Homo sapiens: one gene and its partners. The protein of the gene in region 2 interacts with the protein of the main gene of each other region in a biochemical or structural test. Each region holds a gene or a part of one and is shown on either strand. Other genes may lie near its edges. The genes, in order: SMURF1, UBE2D3, SIAH2 and NEDD4.

Evidence for each region.
Region 1: the proteins of UBE2D3 (region 2) and SMURF1 form a complex in vitro, tested with the Homo sapiens proteins (15 studies listed by BioGRID, with this or other methods).
Region 3: the proteins of UBE2D3 (region 2) and SIAH2 form a complex in vitro, tested with the Homo sapiens proteins (5 studies listed by BioGRID).
Region 4: the proteins of UBE2D3 (region 2) and NEDD4 form a complex in vitro, tested with the Homo sapiens proteins (17 studies listed by BioGRID and IntAct, with this or other methods).

Annotation. Positions count from the first base shown.
Region 1 is NC_000007.14:99,134,100-99,141,140, forward strand, and holds part of SMURF1 (E3 ubiquitin-protein ligase SMURF1), read right to left. Parts: intron 1-7,041. UniProt on the Homo sapiens protein: E3 ubiquitin-protein ligase that acts as a negative regulator of BMP signaling pathway. Mediates ubiquitination and degradation of SMAD1 and SMAD5, 2 receptor-regulated SMADs specific for the BMP pathway.
Region 2 is NC_000004.12:102,793,845-102,796,554, forward strand, and holds the end of UBE2D3 (ubiquitin-conjugating enzyme E2 D3), read right to left. Parts: 3' UTR 539-2,710; downstream 1-538. UniProt on the Homo sapiens protein: Accepts ubiquitin from the E1 complex and catalyzes its covalent attachment to other proteins. In vitro catalyzes 'Lys-11'-, as well as 'Lys-48'-linked polyubiquitination.
Region 3 is NC_000003.12:150,760,142-150,767,210, forward strand, and holds the start of SIAH2 (E3 ubiquitin-protein ligase SIAH2), read right to left. Parts: upstream 3,029-7,069; 5' UTR 2,709-3,028; coding exon 2,292-2,708; intron 2,267-2,291; exon of another isoform or gene 2,196-2,266; intron 2,035-2,195; exon of another isoform or gene 1,796-2,034; intron 1-1,795. UniProt on the Homo sapiens protein: E3 ubiquitin-protein ligase that mediates ubiquitination and subsequent proteasomal degradation of target proteins.
Region 4 is NC_000015.10:55,983,590-55,990,630, forward strand, and holds part of NEDD4 (E3 ubiquitin-protein ligase NEDD4), read right to left. Parts: intron 1-7,041. UniProt on the Homo sapiens protein: E3 ubiquitin-protein ligase which accepts ubiquitin from an E2 ubiquitin-conjugating enzyme in the form of a thioester and then directly transfers the ubiquitin to targeted substrates. Specifically ubiquitinates 'Lys-63' in target proteins.

The DNA of each region.
Region 1 (7,041 bases), on a different chromosome or scaffold from region 2:
TTTTTTTTTTTTTTTTTTGAGACAGGGTCTCGCTCTGTAAGGCTAAACGTGCCTTATTTCCAGAGTTTTTTGGTTTTGTTTCGTTTTTTTTTGCAAATTCTACTCCTGAGCAATTTGTTTATTTTTCTCTTTTCCCCAATCCTTAGAATCTGTGAACAATTTCCTGGTTTTGATATTATACCAGAGTTTTACAAGGGACTAAAACTTCTACCCATGTTTACAGGTATTTCCTCACCAGGCTCAAGTGAGGAACCACGCGAGAACCCTTTGGAAACTATGAAACACTGTACAGACGGGAGGTATTAGTATCACTGACAGGTATGAACAGGCAGCAAGCAGGTCTCACCTCTATAATTTGTAGGTAATATATGTAGAAATAAAATTGAGTAAACTTTGGATTTTTTTTACCCCAAAGACCTAAGAGGGGAAAAAAGCAAATATATCACATTGAAGTTACCATGTTTTCTACTTCTACAGAGCCAGATGCCAATATTGCTTTTTAAAGCACTTCTAAAATTAAAAACAATCCCTTAAAAAAGTTCATGGCAAACACATTGACTATAAATACTTGGAAAAATACTAAATTATTATTACTGGCTTATGCAAATGAGCATTTTACTCCTATTTTAAAGATGAGATTATTTTATAAAAATAGGTCAGAGATAACCCCAAATGACATTCTAAATAAATTATGTAAACCACTATTATTCAGAACCAAGACCTCAGTTTTTTAAAGAACTCACTATATAAACAAGATCTAGAGTCCAAATTTCTTAATCTGAAAGTAATCATTTTGCCTTATTTTAATATGATAGAACAAGCTTTTTGGGGGGTCAGGCAACTCGCTATTACATAATAAACATACTCTCTGGGAAAATAAGTCTGTTCAGAGCTATAAGACAAGTAGCCAAGAATTTTATTCTGTAGAACCCAGGAATCTTCCTAGTGAGGAAGTCCTTATAAATATGAGTATGTACTTTGAAATGCTATAATATTTTAGCCTTTTAAAATACATTCGGCACAATCATTTTGATTTTTCAGAATGTCTACATTTCAAAACAATTGGCAGTTAGTGTACTTACTAGTTGCTCTAAGAAATTCTTATCTATTTAAGAGCTTTTTAATCTTTTTAATTGTTGAAAAGCAATACATGCTCAAGGGGGTGAGAAAAGGGAGGAGATTAAATATTACAAAAGGCATATAATGAAAAGTCACCCTCTCTTCTCTCTTTTCTCTCCTCTCTCCCTCTCTCCTCTCTCTTTCCTCTGAAGAGGAGAACAGGAGAATCTCTTCAAAGGAAATCAACAGTCAAAATCTTTCAGTCGTATTCTATACAGACCTATCTATAGATTTCCCCCTTTATTTTTATTTCTTGTTTTATTATTCAAATAGTACACACACTAGCCTCTGTTTTGAATCATGCTTTTTCCCCCCACTCAATAATATATCTTGGAGAATGTTCCATATCAGAATATAAAACACTATCTTATTATGTTACAGCTACACATCATTGGGAATACACGATAATTTACTTAACTAGTCCCTGCTGATACACATTCACATTGATTTCAGTCTTTTATAATTTCAAACAATGCTGCAATGATTTTACACACCGGACTTTACATAAATGTGTGAAAACACCCATAAGAAAAAAGTCCTACATGCAGAATTGCTAGATCAAAGAGCATAAACATTTATGATCTGATAGACAGTGCCAAACTGCTCTTGGTACCTACTCTATCAATTTATATTCTCAACCACTAGAGTAAAAGACCTGTTTTTCCACACTCTTGTCTCATCACAGAAGATTTTCAATCTCTTTGATCTGCCACTCTTCTAGATGAAAAATTGTTTCATTCTTACTTTTAATTTGTAGTTTGTTTAGTATGAATAGGGCTGATTATCAATTAAAAATAAATTTTTAGAGAAAGAAAATGGGCATAAGAGAGAACAGGGCACAGCGGCATATACTTGCAGTCCCAGCTACTCAGGAAGCTGATGATCGCTTGAGCCCAGGAGTTCCAGGCTGCAGTGAGCTATGATCACGCCAGTGTACTCTAGCCTAGCCTGGGCGACAGAGCAAGACCCCATCTCTAAAGAAGAAAAGGAAAGAAGAAGAGAGAAAATAGGGTTGTCTTTTCACATGTTTCAAATCCATTTCCATTTTCTTTTCTGTGAATTGTCCATATTCTTTGCCTATTAGGTACTGGCCTTTTCCTAATTGATTTTGAAGGCTCTTTATATATTAGGAAAACCAGACTTTCATTTTCGTATCCATTACAGATTGTTGTTCCTAGTTTGTCTTTGCATGTTGATTTTATCCTATTTTTTGCCATGGAGAAATTTTCCATCCAGCTAAAGTTTTTTATTGTTTATAAGTGTTTTTCAGCTGATCTTTTGGGCTTTTAAAGATATATCATAACGTCTATAAATAACAGCAATTTTGTTTCCTGCTTTCTGATGTCTTTCTCTAGTTATTAATAATAACTATTTTGACAGTGTACATCCCTGCATTGTTCCTGATTTTAATGGGAATGTTTCCACAATTTCATCATTTAAAGATGATGCTGGCTAGGTGCAGTGGCTCATGCCTGTAATCCACGTACTTTGGGAGGCTGAGGCAGGTGGATTGCTTGAGCTCAGGAATTCAAGACCAGCCGGGCAACAGGGCGAAACCCCATCTCTACCAAAACTACAATGATTAGCCAGCCGTGGTGGCACATGCCTGTGGTCTCAGCTACTCGGGAGGCTGAGGTGGGAGGATCACTGGAGCCCAAGAAGTCGAGGCTGCAGTGAGCTGTTATGGTGCCACTGCACCCCAGTCTGGGTAACAGAGTGAGACCCCATCTCCAAACAAAACAAAAAATAAACATGATACTGTCCGATGGCACATTACCTGGCCTGGGAAAAACATAAAATAAAAATAAAGATAATACTGGTTTTGGCTTCTAACACTATTTCTCTAAGGAATTTCTGAATACATAATTTATCAATTCATTGTATTATTTTTCCATGTTTATTAACCGGTTCTATAGATTTTCTTCAATGTCAAAGTACGTTATTAGCTTTATTATTTACCTGGCTATTTAGGAATAAGACATAACAGGAATCTATGACTGTATTAATACTGTGCTACTCTATAAATAATTCATAACTACTCATTAAAATATTTAATCCATCTCTAGCAGGTCCTTTTGTGCTCTAAAAAGACAGATCTCTGGCATTAAAGATAGGAAAACTGAATCATGAAAAGATCATAATCCTATGCACCCCCTCCCCTTTCTTCATTGTGGTACTTGTGTGAATTAGAAATCAAATTCAGACCTTCTGATCCCCAGTCCAGTGTTGGAACCACAGGAAAGCATCATGCCCTTTAGAGAACTCAGCGGATGCCCAACATACAAAGAACGCAGGCTGCCATCTACAATCTGCAGCTTCGTGACATGCTCCTCCAGACTCCTGAAAGCAAGCTGCAAGTTGGGCTCCGGAGCTTAAAACATCTGAAATGCATCACCCAGCAGCCAGGAGGATAGGTTCCTGCTCAGTGATAAACGATGTTGCCGACATTCCTCAGCCAATTAGAATTCCTTTCAGCTGCAGTGGAGGTGAACACAGCTGGAATTACAGAGTGGGGCGCGTCACCAGACGCGCTGATTATACATTATTTAAGCCTTGTTTTAAAACAATATGAGGGTGTTTTTTCCCCCATTAGTCCAGAAATGTGGAAACAACATTCCACTTGGTTTAAATATCTAAATGGATTAAATTGCATCTGGAGACAAAACAGTAATAGTGACATTTTAAAAAGAAGATATGCCCAAGCCCCATAGCTATGTGCTTTTGTTTTTTAAACATAGCTCCATGGCTTTCCTTTAACTAGAAAGGCCTTAGGGACTTTAGTCAGTCAGAATGAGTTCCCTGGACAAGAAGCTAATTTAAGTTGGAGGCTTTCACTTACAAATTCACTTACAAAATAACAAACCAGTAATTTAAAACTTGTTCAGTGACAAAAAAAAAAAATTGTATATTCCTTGTTTAAAAAAAAATTAGCCTCTAAAATGGTTTTGAAATTATAAAAAATTGATCCAAATAAGCATCCTAAAAGTTAGCTGTCTTACCCAGCAAATCAGAGCATGGCGAAGATATCAAGTTATTTCATCCATTTGAGGCTTTTTTGAACCACTGAATAAAACGCACAATTCAGCTATTTTAACTGTTAACCAGTGCCCACGATGTTGTACAAAACAGCCAGTCTAGTTAACTGGATCACTGAGGTGATATTGAAACACTATTTGTCGTTTTGTCTTTTTTTCTTTCTTAATCCATGAGGAAATATTTCATAAATAACACAGCCTCCAAAACCTTTCTTTCACCCAATTTTCCACACTAGAACCTGACATTGTGACTGAACCGAGAAAATGAAAATGTGTGGAAGAGAAAGAAAAACCCAACATTCAGAAAGGACTTTTGTAACTGCAAGACTAGAGGTTTTAAACTCTGACAGATGGACTTGAAGTTAAAAATCCTAGTTTGATAAATCACAACTACTGTAAAAATGGAGATAGAAATAAAGCATATGAAAGATTTCATGTCTAAAGTCAGTTGGGTGGGCCAAGAAGATTAAAAGGAAAAAAAAATGGATTTGAAAAAAGAAAGTTGTTCTAAAAGGCAACACAAATGTGATCAAATCACAAAATCAATGACAAAAACCTCTATTTGGCAGAATGTGATTCTTCTTAAAGTATAATTGCAATTCAAGTTTTGCAACAGCATTTGTTCTAACCCATCCTACACCTTCCAATAATTCATCTCAAAGAACTGCCTTAACTGTATCTTCCTAAACTTGAGGCAGACCCTAAGGAAAATGTAAATGCAAAGGGAGCTAAAAACTGACCACTTATTCCATCTTATCACAGCAACTGTGTTATATGGTTTTTGAAACAAAAGTTTTGCCTGCCTCACATAAGTGAGGTTCTTAGCTGGTACAAATTGACAAAGTCAACAGTCTTAACAATTTTCTTAATCTTTCTTGAGAGACTTAACTATTTTGAATCAATTGAGACACCTGTAATTCATCAACCAACATCATCAACAGCTATTACCACAACTATTTCACTCACAGTTGCACCATCTGAATGCCAAAACACAAGTCACCCTTACATCCCACAAGCTACAATTTTAAAAACAACCTCATATTTCCACATGCTATCAAGGAAAGTCTCTTTGTTCCTCTCTGTTTGGAATTAGAGTTTTTCTTACTTCACAATATGCAGTCATGCTCCAAAAGATATAAAAACACCAGGATATCTGAGAGTATTTCAATGCATAAAAGCACAAAAAAGTTTAGGCACTTGTATTTCAACTAATTGGTTGACATTACAATAAAATTTAATTTTCTTGAAGAGCATTGTAGAACCCTGAATTCCATTCTTTTACCCAAAGTGGCCTAAACAATGTGTCTGGGATTCATTTGTGTACCAGATAAGAACAAAGTTTTTGCAAATCCTGCTTGATTTTTCAATCAAAATGTTTCTAAAGTGTTTGATTTGCCAGTGAACTCCAATGACTACAAGATAATGCTCTTTAACAAAAGATCACTTGATTCTGGATATATTATGCCCCTAAACCTACTGAAACCATTTAAAAACTATTTTCCTACTAAAATACCACAAAAACATTCGTTAAAATGTTATTATTTTAAATACAAAGGCTCAAATATTCTTCTACTGTTTAGACCAGGTTGCCAAAGCAGTTCAACATATTACCCAACAGTTTTCAAAAACAATCCCACATGAAGAAATAAAGTCATAAATGTAATCAATACACAAAATTAATGCTTGGCATAAATCAAACACATGTGCTACACTCCAACACAATTTTCTGAATATCAGGATTAAGAATACCACTAAGCCCAAGTGCCCAACAGTAATTTGAAATAAGTAGGTAGCTAAATTGATATATCCTGTGAGAAGGAGGATCAAAGAGTATTATAATGGAGCTGAAATCTCATTTGATATATAAAGAAACTGAGACCCAAAAAGGTTAAATAACTTGTTCCGTAACATGTAGTTAATGAGAAATCTGTCTAGAATCTAGGTCTCCTAACTGTAAATCTAATGCCCTATTCACCCCCAAATAGAATCGTGGACCCCAAAGTTCTAAATGTAGTATCTTCAGTATCCTTTTTTTTTTTTTTTTTTTTTTTGAGACAGAGTCTCACTCTGTTGCCCAGGCTGAAGTGCAGTGGCACAATCTCGGTTCACTGCAAGCTCCACCTCCCAGGTTCAAGCCATTCTCCTGCCTCAGCCTACCCAGTAGCTGGGACTACAGGCGCCCGCCACCACACCCAGCTAATTTTTTGTATTTCTACTAGAGACGAGGTTTCACTGTGTTAGTCAGGATGGTCTCAATCTCCTGACCTCGTGATCCGCCCCACCTCAGCCTCCCAAAGTGCTGAGATTACAGGTGTGAGCCACCGCGCCCAGCTAATTTTTTGTATTTCTAGTAGAGACGGGGTTTCACCGTGTTAGCCAGGATGGTCTCAACCTCCTGACCTCGTGATCTGCCTCAGCCTCCCAAAGTGCTGGGATTCAGGCGTGAGCCACGGCGCCAGGCCATCTTCACTATCTTTGCACTGAATTTCGCTCTGTGTCTATTCATTGACTGGTTGAAATATCCCTCATTTTTAACAGTCTTTTTTTTTTTTCCAAATAACAAACATGGAAATAAACTCTGAAACCTGTAACAAAAGTATTCAAATTTTGAAAGATTGCTTCTCAACATCCCAGAAGTGAGAATTCAAACTTCCCTTAACCAGAAAGATGAGACTAAAACCTATTCCACCGTCAACAAACTTCTAGTTCAAACCTTTCGAGGTAAACTAAGGTTCCACGTACTGGCATTGCATGTGTACCATTACCGCTAAACCGCAATCCTATTGTAAGGATGATCACACTCACAAATCCTCTCAAACCATTCATAACATCTACTGAAAGGGAAAGGGAAAGGGAAAAGGTGTTTCAGAAACAACACTCATCACCT
Region 2 (2,710 bases):
ACTTGACGATTGGTTGAATTCCATGCCAGTATGGTTATTCAAATTAGCCAACTGTAGGACGTTAATGTATTTTAATATTCCAAGTGTAAATGTGGAAATCAATGTACTGTATTACAATTCAAAGTACTAGGAAATTGTCAGGTATCAGAAACGTAATACTTAAACACATTCTCTAAAGCCAAAAACAGCTATAAAAAAATAGCTGTAGAGTCAAAGGATTACTGGTTGTAGTCTGTTACAAGGGAATGCTACGAACAGACTTCTGAAAACGGTTCTCAATCTTCACTATTCATCAGAATCACTTGGAGGGTGTTTTAATATAGGTGACTGGGCTCCATGCCAGTTTGACTCAGGACTGGGATGGGGCCTGACAACTTATATTACAAAGAATTTCCTAAATGATGCTGAGATTGTTATCTCAAGAAACATTTTGAGAACCACCTTATTCATAAACTGTATAAAATTAAAAATCGAGCTCACACACATTAAGCTCAAGTGTGGATTTCATGTTAGCTGGAATTACCGAGTAAGACCAAAGTGTCTTTAAACACAGACTTTAATGGTAACAATTCCTTTAAGCTCAATTAACTTCAGCTATTACAAGTCTTATGCAGATGTCACTATTAGACAATATTTAGTGACTTGCACTGGGTTCCTCATAAAAGACAAATTCACTTAAAAGTGTAATCAACAATCATTAACAGTTTTGTTATGCCAACACAAAACATGGCTGAGTTACCCCCCTCCCCGCCCAAATTACTAACACAGCATGATCAGTACCTTAAGTATACTTCAACTAAGCCATTTCAACAAACAAAAAAAAACAAACAAAAAAAAAAGTGAGTGTTTCACTACCCCTGAGACCACTAGTTAACTGTGGTTCATACTTTAAAATGTGAGTACACCCACACAAGAAAGCAAATTAATCAGTTTTAAAAAATCTGATTATCACATTGCAAACTCGCCCAGGAAAAACAAACTGAGTCATTTAAAATGTAAATTTACCATTAACAGGCCAACTGGACCCTAATTCGGTTTATGCATTAAAAGATTTAGGAAATACAAAGACATAGTCAAAACTGATTCTAATACTCAGTTGGGTCCTATACATGGCACTAGTAATGTCAAATTACTGGGTGGAGTGGGGCAAAGAGGGCAAATTCTTAGATTCTTTTAAGATTTCATTGTACATATCTCATGTCCAGTGTCCATACATTCAAAAATGTTGGTTTTCCAGGTACTTTACTGTTCTTTTAAACCTGGAGAAGCCTCTATGGCTTATTCCCTTAGAAGCAACAAATGAAATGATGTATAAAGCATCAAGTCAAAGATACAGAGAACTGGACACATCCACTAATTGTTATGACAATCAAAGAAGTCATCTCCGTAAATACCTAAGGGTTGTCTAAGGCTATAAAGGTCAATTTGAAAGCCAGTTAGGGATCCACCGTGTTTCATAAAAGTGTCTTACACTCATGTTTGGCTTTCAAGAAGTGATATGCCTACTAAAGCTGTTATTTTGAGACTATATGCATCTCAGAAGTAATTTTGAAAATAGAGCCAAAGAGCAGTTTTTCTTACCTTGTGGAGCAGAATGTTAACTAATTTCTCATTCATAATTTGAATCCAAAAAAGTTATGCAGTATGACATCTACCCTGAAGGAGCCGTTTTAAGCAAAACACAAAATGAAAAAATTCACTCATTGGAAAAACTGCGTAGCTGGTTTTTTCCCCAATGAAATGATTACAGAATTAACAAAGCCAGAACATCTTCAGAAGGCATGCATTTCACTTCCAGTTTAGAGAAGAACCTTAAGTCAATAAATCATGTCCAAACTACATATTAAAATGTTTATAAAAAGTAAGTTTTAACATTTATTTCTAGCTTTCCACATGTGTGTGCAGACAAGGAATAAGATTGCACGTAAGTGTAAGCAGTGCAAAAATGTGGAAGTGGAGGAGTCACAGATGTGCTAGAACTTTAAGAAATAAAGCAGTGAACAAAATCAAAATAAACAGGAAAAATGTAAAACTATGGGATCAGAATTAGGAAAGGTGAAGAATGGTAATGCCCTTGTTACTACAGAAGTTAAATCAGTGGCACAGATAGCACTTGTCAAACAAAAAACAATCCAATAGCATTGACTTTTATTCATTCATGTTAAGTCACCTGAAATGATATCTGTTGCATTTAAATGCTCATTAATGTAAATGGCTGAACAAATCCATTTCAATGGATACTCAATATCCCACATAGATAAGTCACTTCAACACAGCCTCATGACAACTCCCACACCAAAACAGTACTTTATTTTGCAAATTTTGACCCATTATTACTCCCATGTTGTTTTTTTTCAGCTGTCAAGTGTACAAGGTGAAGAGAAATTTCAGTTAGACAGGGGCTGCACCTGGAAAATAAATTTCTTAAACTCCATAAACACATTTCAAAACTGCTGGGTCCCAAAAGTCCATCTATGAACTCTAGGGCTGCCAGTATCATGTGCAGCACATTAAAGCTACACTATCCAAATAGCTTATTAATTCTGCATAAATCAGGTCAAGCAATGTGTCAACCTGTAACAGACTGTGCACTTTAACTGAACATGGCAAAATATTCACTCTTTCGAACTTTACATCATCATTTGATGTCAAACAATGAAGCAAATCCCAACAGTATATACAAAAAACAGCTTTGCATTTACAAAAGATT
Region 3 (7,069 bases), on a different chromosome or scaffold from region 2:
GGGCCTATGTATACATTCAAGTTTGGTTTATCCAGACTAACTGGCTGAGCTGCCCTGCCAATAGTTTGGATTATTGATCAACCAAAGGTGAGGGACACACACCCCAGCTTTATACAACTCACACACATGCACACACAAAAGCATCCCCAAGATCACATCCTAAGCTTGGTTCTTGGTCTGCAGGGGAATAATTGGCCCTTTTAAATTTCAGCTTGCAAAGTAATAGCTTTACCCCACTGCATTCTTATAGAATAGAGACTCAGAAAACCACTGACATGTACAGAAAGGCTGAGAACCCCTGATTCCCAGAACTACTCTTCAAGGTTGATTTCAGTAGCCTGTTTCACGTTAGGAAAGAACGTATGCTTTCATAGGAACCAGAGTTCTAGATCCTGAAAGTGAAACTTCATGCTCCATATAGCATAACTGTTTCCTTCCCTTTCTCTTGGGAACAACACAATTCTATTATGGTTACATTTTAAAAACAAATTATGGATTACTGACTAATATCAAATGCTCATTTGTGAACTAAAACTCACCTAAAAGCCATTTCTTTTGTTAGCCGCTGCGCGTTTAAGGGAAAGTAAAGGGGTGAGAAAATGGCTCCCCAGAAATCCTATGGGGCATCCCCCACCCCTGCAATATATCTCAAGCATCAAATAGCCACTCTATGTTAACTACCACCAAACCTTTTCCAACCACTAGGTTGTCACCTTTTTCACAACCCTAAGACAACTATGCAAATACTTTATCTAAATTTTGAGAAACTGGGCTGAGTGAATTAGTAAGCACTATATGAGGAGGGGTTAACAGCAATTTATTAAGGTTGCCTGAAACACCCTAGTCCAAACACCGATTCAAACTCTTATTTAAATATGCTATTTTAAACCTGATTTGCAGCAGGGCAGCAGACCAAATTAAAGCACTCATTTTACTGACCTGAGTCCCAAGCCTGAATTCTCTGGTGGATTATTTTTAATTTAAAAATGAGCTCTTGTCCTATAAAATAAGCAGCACCAAGGAGAAATGCAAGACAGCTTAAATGGCCCAAGAGGCAGCGCAAGTTACTTTTACAAAAAAACTGGAAAGTATTAGTGACATTATCTCCACTTCTAATTTCAGAAAATGACTTTACAGTATACTTCTAGGTTATAACGTAGACAAGTATGTCTGTGAAACTGCTCCTGAAGGTTTCCACGTAATAGCTGCAGGTAAACAAATGTTATAATATGACCACACAATGCAATACTATGCAGCCATTTAAAATACAATGAAGTCGACTAGGTTTCAGGCATAGAGAAATATGTGTGATAATATGAATTTAAGAACAGCAAGTTGCAGATGCCATTTTTGGAGAAAAACTTACATCTATGTGTGGGTATTAAAAAACCTCCCTGACATACACTGACATCTATGATTCTATATTTAGCTGCGAGGGTGTATGTATATATAGTTTAAAAAGATACACACTAAACCTAACAATGGTGGGAAAGGAGGGGAGAGATCTTGGTCTTTCATTTTACTTCTTGTCTTGGTGGCTTGCATTTTTCGCAAGGGCATTGAAAACTTTTTACATTAAATAAAAAATGAAGTGATGAGCTTTAAACAACTGTAACAACAGCTCTTGAGTGCCCTTGTTAATTTCTTGATTGACTGTTTTCACCCCACTTAGTACAACAACGCAGCCACAACTCCTCAGTCCTTCCCAGTCTTTGGAAGGCTAGGAGAGAAAAAGGCGTGGCTTGCAGGGTTTTCTTCTAGCTAGAGGAAAACAGGCTGTAGGCGCCCTTTTTTTAGCTACAATCCCGAGAGCTCCCACGTGTCAGGGGTGCGCAGACGGTAGGCGCGGGGTGCAGGACTCCAATTATCAATTCAGCCGAGCCCAGCGCTGGTAAAGGGGGCGTTTAGCTCGCCCGTTTCCTCCCTCCTCAATCCCCACACAGTCAGTTTCTCGGTCCAAGTTTTACTGGTGCGGCCCAGCCCTACCGAGAGTACCCGAATACACGTCTGCAGAGGACGCGGGCATTGGGCCGGGTGAGCTACGATGTTCTAACGATCAGCAAATGCCAATTAATCTGTTAATTGTCTATTAACAATTATTACTCGGTAAATGTCAACCCAGACCTACACCCAAAGTGGGCTTGAGGGAGGGTGGACGAAGTGTAAACATTTTTTCTTTTTTTTTTTTAAATGAGAGATGCCGCCCGCCTCTCCGGGCCTGCGAGTGGGCTGGCGGATACCGGAGTCCCTGAGGTCACCGGCGGAGGTACGTGGGCTGTCCCTGGGCTTACCTTACAGGGAAACAGGACTGCCGAGGCCACCTTCTCCATAGCCAGGTTCCTGATGCTGGGCGTCAGGGCGCCCCTGCACGTCGGGCAGCAGCTCAACTTCTGGCGGCATTGGTTACACACCAGGTGCCCGGCCTGGCACTGCAGAATAGGAGGCAGGACATAGTCAAAGCAGACCGGACACTCGAAGAGCGAGGTCAGCTCGTGGTGCTGCGGGGACACCGGGCCGGCCCCGCCGCCGCCGCCGGGGCCCGAGATCACCGCCGCCGCGGCGGGCACCGCGGACGAGCCGGGGCCCGCAGCCGAGATGGTGGCGGCGGCCGGGGGCGCAGCCGGGGACGGAGTGTGCTGGGGCTGCGGCGGCGGCTGCTTGCTGCAGGGTTTATTAGCGCTGGGGCCGGTGGAGGACGGGCGGCTCATCGCGCTCCGAACCAACCATGGAACTGCGGGCGCCTGCCTGCCGCGGGGCCGCCCGGGTCAAGGCGGTGCGCGCCCCGCGGGCAGCGAGCTCCGAGGCAACGCCACGGCGCCCAGCCCAGGTCCGGGCGGCGGAGACGCTCGGCGCCCGGCAGGCGGAGGGCTGGACCGCGCTGATGCACTCCGCAGCCCCCGGCGTTCCGAGCACGCCTCCGCGTCGGACCCCGCGCGGTGCCCTCCTCCCGGCGGCGTCCCGGGCCCCGAACCCCAGCGGTGCGCAGAGCCCTGGCCCACCCGCTTCTGGAACAGCCGCTGACGCAAGCCCCGGGGGCGCGCGCGGACGTGACGCCTGGACACGTGTGCGGCCGCCCAGGCGCGCGGGGACTGGCAGAGCCACCCTGCGCCGGGGCGCTGGCTCCGCCCGGCTCCAGCTGGCAGCGCAGGGGGCCGCCTAGCGCCGGCGCTTCCTGCTCGGGCTGCGGGCCGGGCCTGCGCCAGTGAGCATGCCTGGCTCGCTGCAGCCCCGCGGGGTTGTCTTTTCTGGGTTGAGGAGGGGGGCTACTCTCGGGGAAGCGTCGCCGAAGTCCTCTGGCCACACCCCGGGGTGCCTGGCTGACGCGTCCCTCAGCTCAAACGAGAAAGGCAACTTCAGGCGGGGCGGGAGCGTGGACGGTGGGTGGGACCGGACGCGGGCGGGCAGGGGCGGGGCGCGGGCGCCCCTGCACTAGTCGGAAAAAACCGAGAGGTTTCTCTTCTCAGGGCTGAGTCACCAGCACGCAGGAGAAGAGGGCGAAGCGGCCACCCGCGTTCTGTGTTCGGAGTCAGGACGAGAAGCATTGGGTGGGAGCAGGGCGAGGGGCTCGAGTTGGGTCTGCAGCGGGCACAGGACCTAGTTTTGTACAGTTAACGGTGGGGTTGAGTAAAGAGGGGGGCGGTGGGGAGGATGTAAGCTCCCTTTATTCCTTTCCCAGCGGACCAGGAGGAAGCTTCGTTGAATTGAGCGCCCCTGGCTCGTATAGCAGGCCGAGGAGGGAGCTCATGGGCAGCGTTGGCTAAGAGTTCGAGATCATCTAGAAATGTCAGAAACGTAGGTTGGGTCGTGAGGTCTCTGAAGACAGTGGGTGAAACTCCAGTGTAAGGCGCTGCGTCCGCTTGGTAGAGAGCCGGCCGAAGTCCGAGTCTTTGTTGCGAGGCGTAGGGCCACCCTGCGCGCCCAGCAGAAGCGCTAGAGGGCACGGTTGCCCGGGGTGAACCGCATGTCCAAATGTAACTGTGTGCTCCGAGTTAAAATTGTTTTTCTGCAGACTTTGCTTGAGCCAACGATTCCGGAATTGGGGAAAGGGTTACCTTAGGTAGAAATCGGAAATTTATAGGAGACACAGAGGTAAGGACCAACTGTTAGGACTGAGTGAAAAATGGTTCCCTCCAACTGTAAAAGTGGAAAAAAAAATACCTATCTTATAGGTGGGGCAGTGAGGAGTAAATGAGTTTAATATATTTCAAGCTTTTAAAACAACCTCGCCCATCATAAGCACTGTTTAAACATTAGCTCTTATCTTTTAAAAATATTAGTGGATGTTTAAAATGAATGAATACAATTTGTCCAAGAAATATGGCGTAAGAGCCCAGAAGAAATAAAGTTTAATCTTACAAAGGGCTTCTGTAGAAAGAATACATGCATGGAATTGATGGAATTTGGTATAAATCTTGAAAAAACTTAATAGGTGTATTCAATCGTTCAGTAAATGTTTCCTGAGCATTTATCATGTGTCAGCTACTGTTGGAGCTCTGAGAATGGTTCTCATGCAGTTTACATTCTAGTAAGAGAGCAAGGCCCAATAACCAAGCACTCGTGGGAGAAGAAGGATTTCAGATACCACGGGGTGGGCAGGCATTATAGCAGGAGCTAAAAAGCACAGAGTGAAAGCATGTATTCTGGGATTGCATTGGGACTTGGAGGGGATATAACGGGAGTGTAGGGGTGTGGCGTTAGCACAAGGGGAGCCTCAACTGGCTTAATAAGACATTTACCTCAATGATAGGGGTAAACCACTGTAGGGTTTTGTTTGTTTTTTTAAGAACACACAACAACACTAGGTTTTGTAGGTTTTTGGAAGCTCTTTAGTAACATGGCTGAACCTGAGTTTTTGGATAGGTAGGGAGCATAAAATAATAACTAATGTTAATTGAGTGCCCACTGTATGTTGGGCATGGATAGTTTTAAGTATTTATCATAACTCTCTGTGATGAATACTACTGTTATCTCCATTTTACAGTTGAGGAAACCGAGACATAGGTTACTTTGCTCAAGATCACACAGCTGAGAATGTGGGAACACGCTAGGAGCCCTTCTTAACTACTAGTCTGTATGCCTCTAAATTATGCCTGATTCCTACTTACAGTCTTGTTAAACAGTTAAGATTAGCACACTCAACAGAGTCAGAAAACAGTTGTTCAGCCTATAATAAAGCACTAAATTTTGTGGGCAAACTTTACATAAACTCTTTCCTTAGCTGGTCTAGAGAGAAAAATTAAATCATGTTCTATTTATTTCATTTTCACCTTTTTATGACACAAAATATAAGTGATAACACAAAAATCACCTACTGTTTTACTGTTATTGGAGGAAATGTAATATTTTTCATTCTTAATTTAAAATCAAAGCATTTGGAATTTATTAATGGAACACATTTTCTTTCCTTCCACTTCTAGCCTCTCTGTGTGATGACCTCCATCCCCACGGCTTCTTACTAGCTCTCATTAGGAGACTGGAGTCCTCACCCTTGCCCCATTGACACGAGCTTTAAGTGTTCCAGCTAGATAGGCCCTGGTCATTCAGAAAACAATTTGGTTTGGGAGGTGTTGAAAGAAATAACAGGAAAAGCAATTCTCTGCAGAGAGAATTTGGTTTATTTTTCTAAAAATACAGCGAACCCATCCACTCTTACCCTGGCAGATGCCTCCCCTGGTATAGAGAAATTTCTTCTTTCTTCCTCCTTCACATCATTGCACACCTGATTAAGTCAACCAGGGTAATTAAAATACAAAAGCAAAACAAAAAAACTCTGGGCAGTTGCTGAAGGTAGGCAGGGGGAGAGTGGATAGGTCTGCTATGTGAGCCACATCAATGACCAGGCTGGTCTTCCCAGTCGCCTTTCTTCTTCCTCCTTCCTTGGTGACTTTTGAAACAAAGAAAGGTGACCTTTGCATACCGGGCACTATGAGCTAGAGCCTCCTCTTCCAGCGGGCAGTCCGCTCAGAGGTCGAATTTAGCGTGTACTCAAAATGTGTGCTGAGTTGAGTTGTTGGGAGGTTTATTTACCCTTTGGAGTGTCGCTGCTGCTTCTTGGCCTGTTTAGTGAGTGACTTTGTGGTCTGGGGGAGCAGGGTCCAGCCTTTTGTTATCTCCTGATTCATGACTCATTTACCACATCTACTGTATGAGAGGTTGGTCTCATTCGCCCACCTACTGAGTCCCAGATTGCATATGTCAAGCAGGACACCTCTCCTTAACCCATCTGCTCTATGCTAAGCTTGAAAGACTAGGGGTGTACTGAGTAGCCTTTTCTTTCCTTAAAATAGCAGGGTGAGTCTTAAAAAAAACACCTCACAGGTGAGTTCCTAATTTCACTAAACTGCTGAGCACAGTGAGAAATGCTCCAGCTAGGCAGACAAGCTCTTGCCCTTTTTTCTGTAACTTACAAATTGTGTGGTTTTGCAAATCAGGCAACTTCTGCCATCAGGCAAATGTGCATTTGCAGAGCAAATTGTGGTTGGCTTTTTAGAGATGACTCAGGTATGCATTGGAGCTTGCTGCATGGAAATTCCTCATCAGGGGAAGCTTGTGGGAAATCTGGAGGTGATGTAAGGCCCCCTGGTAATTATAGTAGGAACTTTTAACTTCATCTGTTTCTGGGGTAATTTCCAAATGCTCAAACTTCTTTTGAATAATTGTAGGTCTCTTAATTCAAATCTTTTTTTTTTTTTTTGAGACAGGGTCTCACTCTGTCACCTAGGCTTAATGCAGTGGCTGGATCATGGCTGACTGCAGCCTCAACCTCCCAGGCTCAAAGGATCCTCCTGAGTAGCTGGGACTACAGGCACGTGCCATCACGCCCTGCTAGTTTTTTAGTTTTTGTAGAGAAGAGGTCTCACTGTGTTGCCGAGGCTGGCCTCAAACTCCTATACTCAAGTACTCCTAATTCAAGCATTTTTTTGAACAACCATCATGGACTTAGCACTGTGTACTAAGAGCAGTTCTATGTATTTGCATTATTTTTGTATCCACACTTAGCTAATTAGTGCTCACCCTGTACCAGGGAGTGTTCCAAGTACTTTACATATTTTAATTCTCTTAATTCTCA
Region 4 (7,041 bases), on a different chromosome or scaffold from region 2:
AAATTAATTAATTTTTAGATATACTTTTTTTTTTTTTTTTGAGACAGAGTGTTCTTCTGTTGCCCAGACTGGAGTGCAGTGGCGCAGTCTCGGTTCACTGCAACCCCCACCTCCCGATTCAAACAATTTTCCTGCCTCAGCCTCTCAAGTACCTGAGACTACAGGTATATGCTACCATGCCTGGCTAATTTTTGTATTTTTGGTAGAGACAGGGTTTCACCATGTTGGCCAGGCTGGTCTCGAACTCCTGACCTCAAGTGATCCACCCATCTCAGCCTCCGAAAGTGCTGGGATTACAGGTGTGAGCCACTGCGCCCAGCCTGTTATAAATACTTTCATCTTACACTGTTTTCCTTAATAACACTTATAAAATATTGATGTGTGATAATTTATTTAATGTTTCTCTCTCCCTCTTGGCTATAAAATCGGTAAAGTATATTCTATATCATTATACCTCATGCCCTGACCCACGTGCCTGATACATAGTGTTCATCAAATATTTGTTAAGCAAATACAGAAATCAAGTACTTCAGAGGTCCACCTAAAAGCTTTATCAAGAAAAGACAGAAGATGTGGAAATGAGAGCATAACAATTACAAGTTAATTTTGCACACATTCCATTCACATTCATCATATTCCTGAGAAAAAGTCTCTTCTGTTAAATTATTTTATTTGCGTATTAGTAGCAGGAAAGTGGAAGGACCAAGTGTTTGTTATGAATATAACACTTCTCCCTACTGGGAGAAGGTTCTTGAACAAATCAGAATCTCATATTCCTTATCTCTAAAATGGGGGTAATACTTCCTACTTCTGCAATAATGTTGTGATGATTACAGCTAAAGTATGAAAAAATCTAACCTGGTGCCTGGCACAGAGTGGGTATTCAGTTAAAGGCAGTTGCTATTTATTTAGGTTGACTCTTTTTCCCAAAGGAGAATACTTTCACTAAAGCATCTTTATTGACGGCCATGATTGTTTGTTCATATTACTCTCTTCATTGCCCCAACATGTCTCGCATCAGTTGAAGCCAGACATTTGAGTCCAGCCATGAGTTATAATAATGGGCTACAGACATATTTACTCAACTTTCAGAAAAGCCTTATCAAAATGCTTTTTGTTTGTGCTGTGCCTTTCTCCCTGCATTTATCTCCAGACTTCTCCTATCCCCTCCCCATTCATTTATCCTCTTAAACTTTGATACTATTGGCAAGGAGGCCAGAAGAAATAGAAGTCCTAAAGAAGAAGTAACATCAATTGCCACAGAATTCAGCAGAACAATGGGTTCAGCAATTCAAATCAGCTATCTGACTTAAAGATTCAGCTCTGGAGTAGATAACCATGATAGATTGAGAAGCAATTGTGTTCAACTGGTTCCTGCATGTCTCCAAATGCTATAGAATATTTCTGAGACAGCAAGGGGATGGGAGAATCAGCAGACTTAAATATCCTGCTCTGACTGATGTTTAATTATGCAAGATTCACCAAGTAAGTGACAGGGCCAGAATTCCAACACAAAAGAATCCCATTTTCTATACCCCTGCTCACCCTAAATGATTTATTTACAAGGTCTCTTCCAGCTCAAAGATTCTACTCCTATGTGATATATGAATTCCTAATTACCTATAAAAGAAATTATAGTTCCTTCTCCTTTTCTGTTCCTGGCGCAGAGCAGTCAATCACAGGCCACTACAGAAAATGTCTGTGGAGTGAGGGTGAATTTCACAGAGGTGCATGGTTGGCATGCTCGCCAGCACGGGGCACTGAGGGGAGGAGGGAGATACCATACAGAGATGCATCAGAAGGGTGCCCACTGGCAAGGGTACTGAGGAGGGGAGGACGGCGTTGCACAGGGATGCTGCATAGAGAATAGCAATATTCCCACTGGCATCCAAGGATGTGAAGAGCTGAAGTGGCAGAGGAGATGTCTGCGTGGTCAGGAAGTTAGTTACACTGAACACATAAGTCAATGAACAAATATATTAAGGATAATAAAAGTCAAATTTTTTCACTGTTAGAAAAGGTACTTATGGCTATAAAGGAACTCAGGTATTAGGTTTGAATTGGAAAAAATCAGTATGAATTCATGATTTTTAAATTTATGTATTTACAGATTGATATAGAAATAGCTATAGATCTTTGTGTATACTTATATATGTGTGTAGAGTACACATACACACACACACACACACACACACACACGCTTAACTGTTCAGAGATGGTCCAAGAGTATATCCCAGTAACAATGAGCACACCAAGTACCCAAATTGTAGCATGTAAAAACCATTTTATACTAAATAGGACCAGTGCTTCTAGGGAAAATGGCTGATTGTAGATAGCTGAGCCAAGCAAAATACAAGAGAAGCCTGGAACAACTTCTGCCAGAAAGTGTTCAAAGAATGATGGGGACTTGTTACGAAGACCTAGGAACCTCCTTGAAAGGGCTCCCACTGGACAAACTGGGACAGTATGAGCAATAAAATATTTAATGACAGTAACTGATTACAACCTGCTGAATAAAGTGGGATTTTACAAGTCTATGCTGATATAAATAAATGACAGGAAAAGGAAAGCTCTTCTTACATAGAATGCCAACTAACAGAGATGGAAATAAAACAAAATAGTGGTGTTTGGTTCAGATAGAATTCATCAATGGATGCTAAAACTGAGGATGAAGACTTGACGAGAAATAGGATATTGGCATAATCTTACGATATGTCCCCTGAAAATACTATCAATTATAAAGAGAAAAAAGGTGACATTACAGAGAAGAAACCTGGCAGACACCAAGGTGACCAAGTGATTAAGGTCACTGACAGTGTTGGGACAAGTCAGCATCATGTGTCCCCTGGTGTGATGCATGCGAAGAACACAGCATCATTTCTATGATTCCTGCCAAGAGAGCGTGACCTGAACATGGTCATCAAGAAACACTAAACAGACCCAAACAGACCCAAAATGAGAAACATCGTAGGATGTAAGGCCTGTCCTTGCTTTTTTTTTTTTTTTTTTTTTTTTTGTGAGACGGAGTCTCGCTCCGTCGCCGAGGCTGGAGTGCAGTGGCATGATCTTGACTCATTGCAAGCTCTGCCTCCCAGGTTCACGCCATTCTCCGGCCTCAGCCTCCCGAGTAGCTGGGACTACAGGCACCCACCACCACACCCGGCTAATTTTTTTTTTTTGTATTTTTAGTGGAGATGGGGTTTCACCATGTTAGCCAGGATAGTCTCAATCTCCCGACCTCGTGATCCACCCGTCTCGGCCTCCCAAAGTGCTGGGATTACAGGCGTGAGCCACCGCGCCCGGCCAAGGCCTGTCCTTCTTAAAACTGTCTAGGATAAGAAAAACTGTGCATGTGTCTTTATAGCAGCATGATTTATAGTCCTTTGGGTATATACCCAGTAATGGGATGGCTGGGTCAAATGGTATTTCTAGTTCTAGATCCCTGAGGAATCGCCACACTGACTTCCACAATGGTTGAACTAGTTTACAGTCCCACCAACAGTGTAAAAGTGTTCCTATTTCTCCACATCCTCTCCAGCACCTGTTGTTTCCTGACTTTTTAATGATTGCCATTCTAACTGGTGTGAGATGATATCTCATAGTGGTTTTGATTTGCATTTCTCTGATGGCCAGTGATGATGAGCATTTCTTCATGTGTTTTTTGGCTGCATAAATGTCTTCTTTTGAGAAGTGTCTGTTCATGTCCTTCGCCCACTTTTTGATGGGGTTGTTTGTTTTTTTCTTGTAAATTTGTTTGAGTTCATTGTAGATTCTGGATATTAGCCCTTTGTCAGATGAGTAGGTTGCGAAAATTTTCTCCCATGTTGTAGGTTGCCTGTTCACTCTGATGGTAGTTTCTTTTGCTGTGCAGAAGCTCTTTAGTTTAATTAGATCCCATTTGTCAATTTTGGCTTTTGTTGCCATTGCTTTTGGTGTTTTGGACATGAAGTCCTTGCCCACGCCTATGTCCTGAATGGTAATGCCTAGGTTTTCTTCTAGGGTTTTTATGGTTTTAGGTCTAACGTTTAAATCTTTAATCCATCTTGAATTGATTTTTGTATAAGGTGTAAGGAAGGGATCCAGTTTCAGCTTTCTACATATGGCTAGCCAGTTTTCCCAGCACCATTTATTAAATAGGGAATCCTTTCCCCATTGCTTGTTTTTCTCAGGTTTGTCAAAGATCAGATAGTTGTAGATATGTGGCATTATTTCTGAGGGCTCTGTTCTGTTCCATTGATCTATATCTCTGTTTTGGTACCAGTACCATGCTGTTTTGGTTACTGTAGCCTTGTAGTATAGTTTGAAGTCAGGTAGTGTGATGCCTCCAGCTTTGTTCTTTTGGCTTAGGATTGACTTGGCGATGCGGGCTCTTTTTTGGTTCCATATGAACTTTAAAGTAGTTTTTTCCAATTCTGTGAAGAAAGTCATTGCACACGTATGTTTATTGCGGCACTATTCACAATAGCAAAGACTTGGAACCAACCCAAATGTCCAACAATGATAGACTGGATTAAGAAAATGTGGCACATATACACCATGGAATACTATGCAGCCATAAAAAATGATGAGTTCATGTCCTTTGTAGGGACATGGATGAAATTGGAAACCATCATTCTCAGTAAACTATCGCAAGAACAAAAAACCAAACACCGCATATTCTCACTCATAGGTGGGAATTGAACAATGAGATCACTTGGACACAGGAAGGGGAATATCACACTCTGGGGACTGTGGTGGGGTCGGGGGAGGGGGGAGGGATAGCATTGGGAGATATACCTAATGCTAGATGACACGTTAGTGGGTGCAGCACACCAGCATGGCACATGTATACATATGTAACTAACCTGCGCAATGTGCACATGTACACTAAAACTTAGAGTATAATAAAAAAAAAAATTAAAAAAAAAAAAAAAAAAAGAAAAACTGAGGAAATGTTACAGATTAGAAGAGACTGCAAAGACATGCCACGTAAAAGCAATATATGTTCCCAGATAGGTTCTTAGACCAGAAAAGGAAAAAGAGAAATTATTAGTAACATTTATCAAAATTTGGATGGTATCTGTGGATTGAATGGCATTGTTGTATCAGTGTCCATTTCCTAGCTTGGAAGGGGGTATGGTTGTTATGCAGGAAAGTATTCTTGTTTTAGAAAAATACACACTAGAGTATTTAAAGATGATGGGGCATTGTGTCTGCAGCTTGCTCTCAAGTGGTTCAGAAAAAGATTAATGAAAATGGCAAAAAAAGGTGATGGAACAATTGCAGTGAAAAGGTTAACAGTTGCAGAATCTGTATGAGAAGAATACTGGAGCTCTTTGTGTTGTACTTTCAACTTTTCTGATGGTTTAAAATAATTTTAAAATAGGACGGGCGCGGTGCCTCACGCCTATAATCCCAGCACTTTGGAAGGCCGAGGCAGGCGGATCATCTGAGGTCAGGAGTTCGAGACCAGCCTGGCCAACATGGTAAAACCCCATCTCTACCAAAAATACAAAAATTAGCTGGGCGTGGTGGTGCGTGCCTATAATCCCAGCTACCCTGGAGGGTGATGCAGGAAAATCGCTGGAACCTGGTAGGCAGAGGGTGCAGTGAGCTGAGATCACGCCATTGCACTCCAGCCTGTGTGACAGAGCAAGACTCCGTCTCAAAAGTAAATACATAATTTAAAAATAAATTATTTTAAAAATACACTATATTTATTCACTTCTTTAGTCCCTGCTCCATGAAAAATACTTTACAATGATCCTGGAATTAAAGAGTTGCAAAAAAGCACTAATGGCAAAAACAATACATGAAAGATTGGGAGAAATTACTAATACAGCTGCTGCTTAACCTATGCTTCTCCTCCTTTGTGTGTAGTACATAAAGGTTTGGGAAGTTTGTTCCCAGACTGAGTAAGGGTCAGTTTCTGCTCAGCCTTAGTGGGTCCAGAAGTATCAGAATATGCCCTTCTTACCCTGCTACTTATGCACTGTTGTGGCTGCTGCCACCAGGGGCATCTATTATTCTGTATGTGCAAACTGCACTCTCCATACCGATAGCGGAGACTCTGAACTCTTTCCTCTTTATTTCCTTCCTTCTTTTCCTTGCTTCAGTCAGCCTTTCTTATAGGAAACAGAAATCATTCTAGATGCTTTAAGAAGAAAGAAGCTAATACAGGGGATTAGATGCTTACAAAATTTTTGGAAGAGCTGGAAGAGTAGGTGCTAGGCTGGACTTCTAGAGCAGGGGTCCCCAACCTTAGGAACCAGCCACACAGCAGGAGGTGAGTGGCAGGCCAGTGAGCAAAGCTTCATCTGTATTTACAGCCACTCCTCACCGATCACATTACCTCCGGAGCTCTGCTGCCTGTCAGATCAGCAGCGGCATTAGATTCTCATAAGAGCATGAACCCTATTGTGAACTGTCCATGCAAGCGATCTAGGTTGTGTACCCCTTATAAGAATCTAATGCCTGATGATTTGTCACTGTCTCCCTGTCTCCCATTACCGTCACCCACACTTGGGACCATCTAGTTGCAGGAAAACAAGCTCAGGGCTCCCACTAATTCTACATTACGGTGAGCTGTATAATTACTTCATTACATATCACAATGTAATCATAATAGAAGTAGAGTGCACCATACATGTAATGTGCTTGAATCATCCTGAAACCACTGGACCGCATCCCCGGTCCATGGAAAAACTATCTTCCATGAAACCGGTCCCTGGTGCCAAAACAGTTGGGGACTGCAGTTCTAGAAGATCAGAAACATGGCAGAACTGACCCATCCAGGAAGCTACTACCTCTCCCAGTCAGAAAGGTAGATGATCAGGAGTCATCACCAGAACTGATGACTTCAAGAATATAATCAATCTTGACGTCTGGAAGCCACTACCACCACTACTTCGGTGACTTCCTATCAATATGTACAAAGCAAGTTACCAGATACTGGAATACTTTCGCAGAAAATTTAGATGTTTACATGACTGTGCTTATCAGCAGAAAAAGCCAAAGAAACAAAACAATATGCTCCACCTCATTTCCACTCTGCAAATCTCA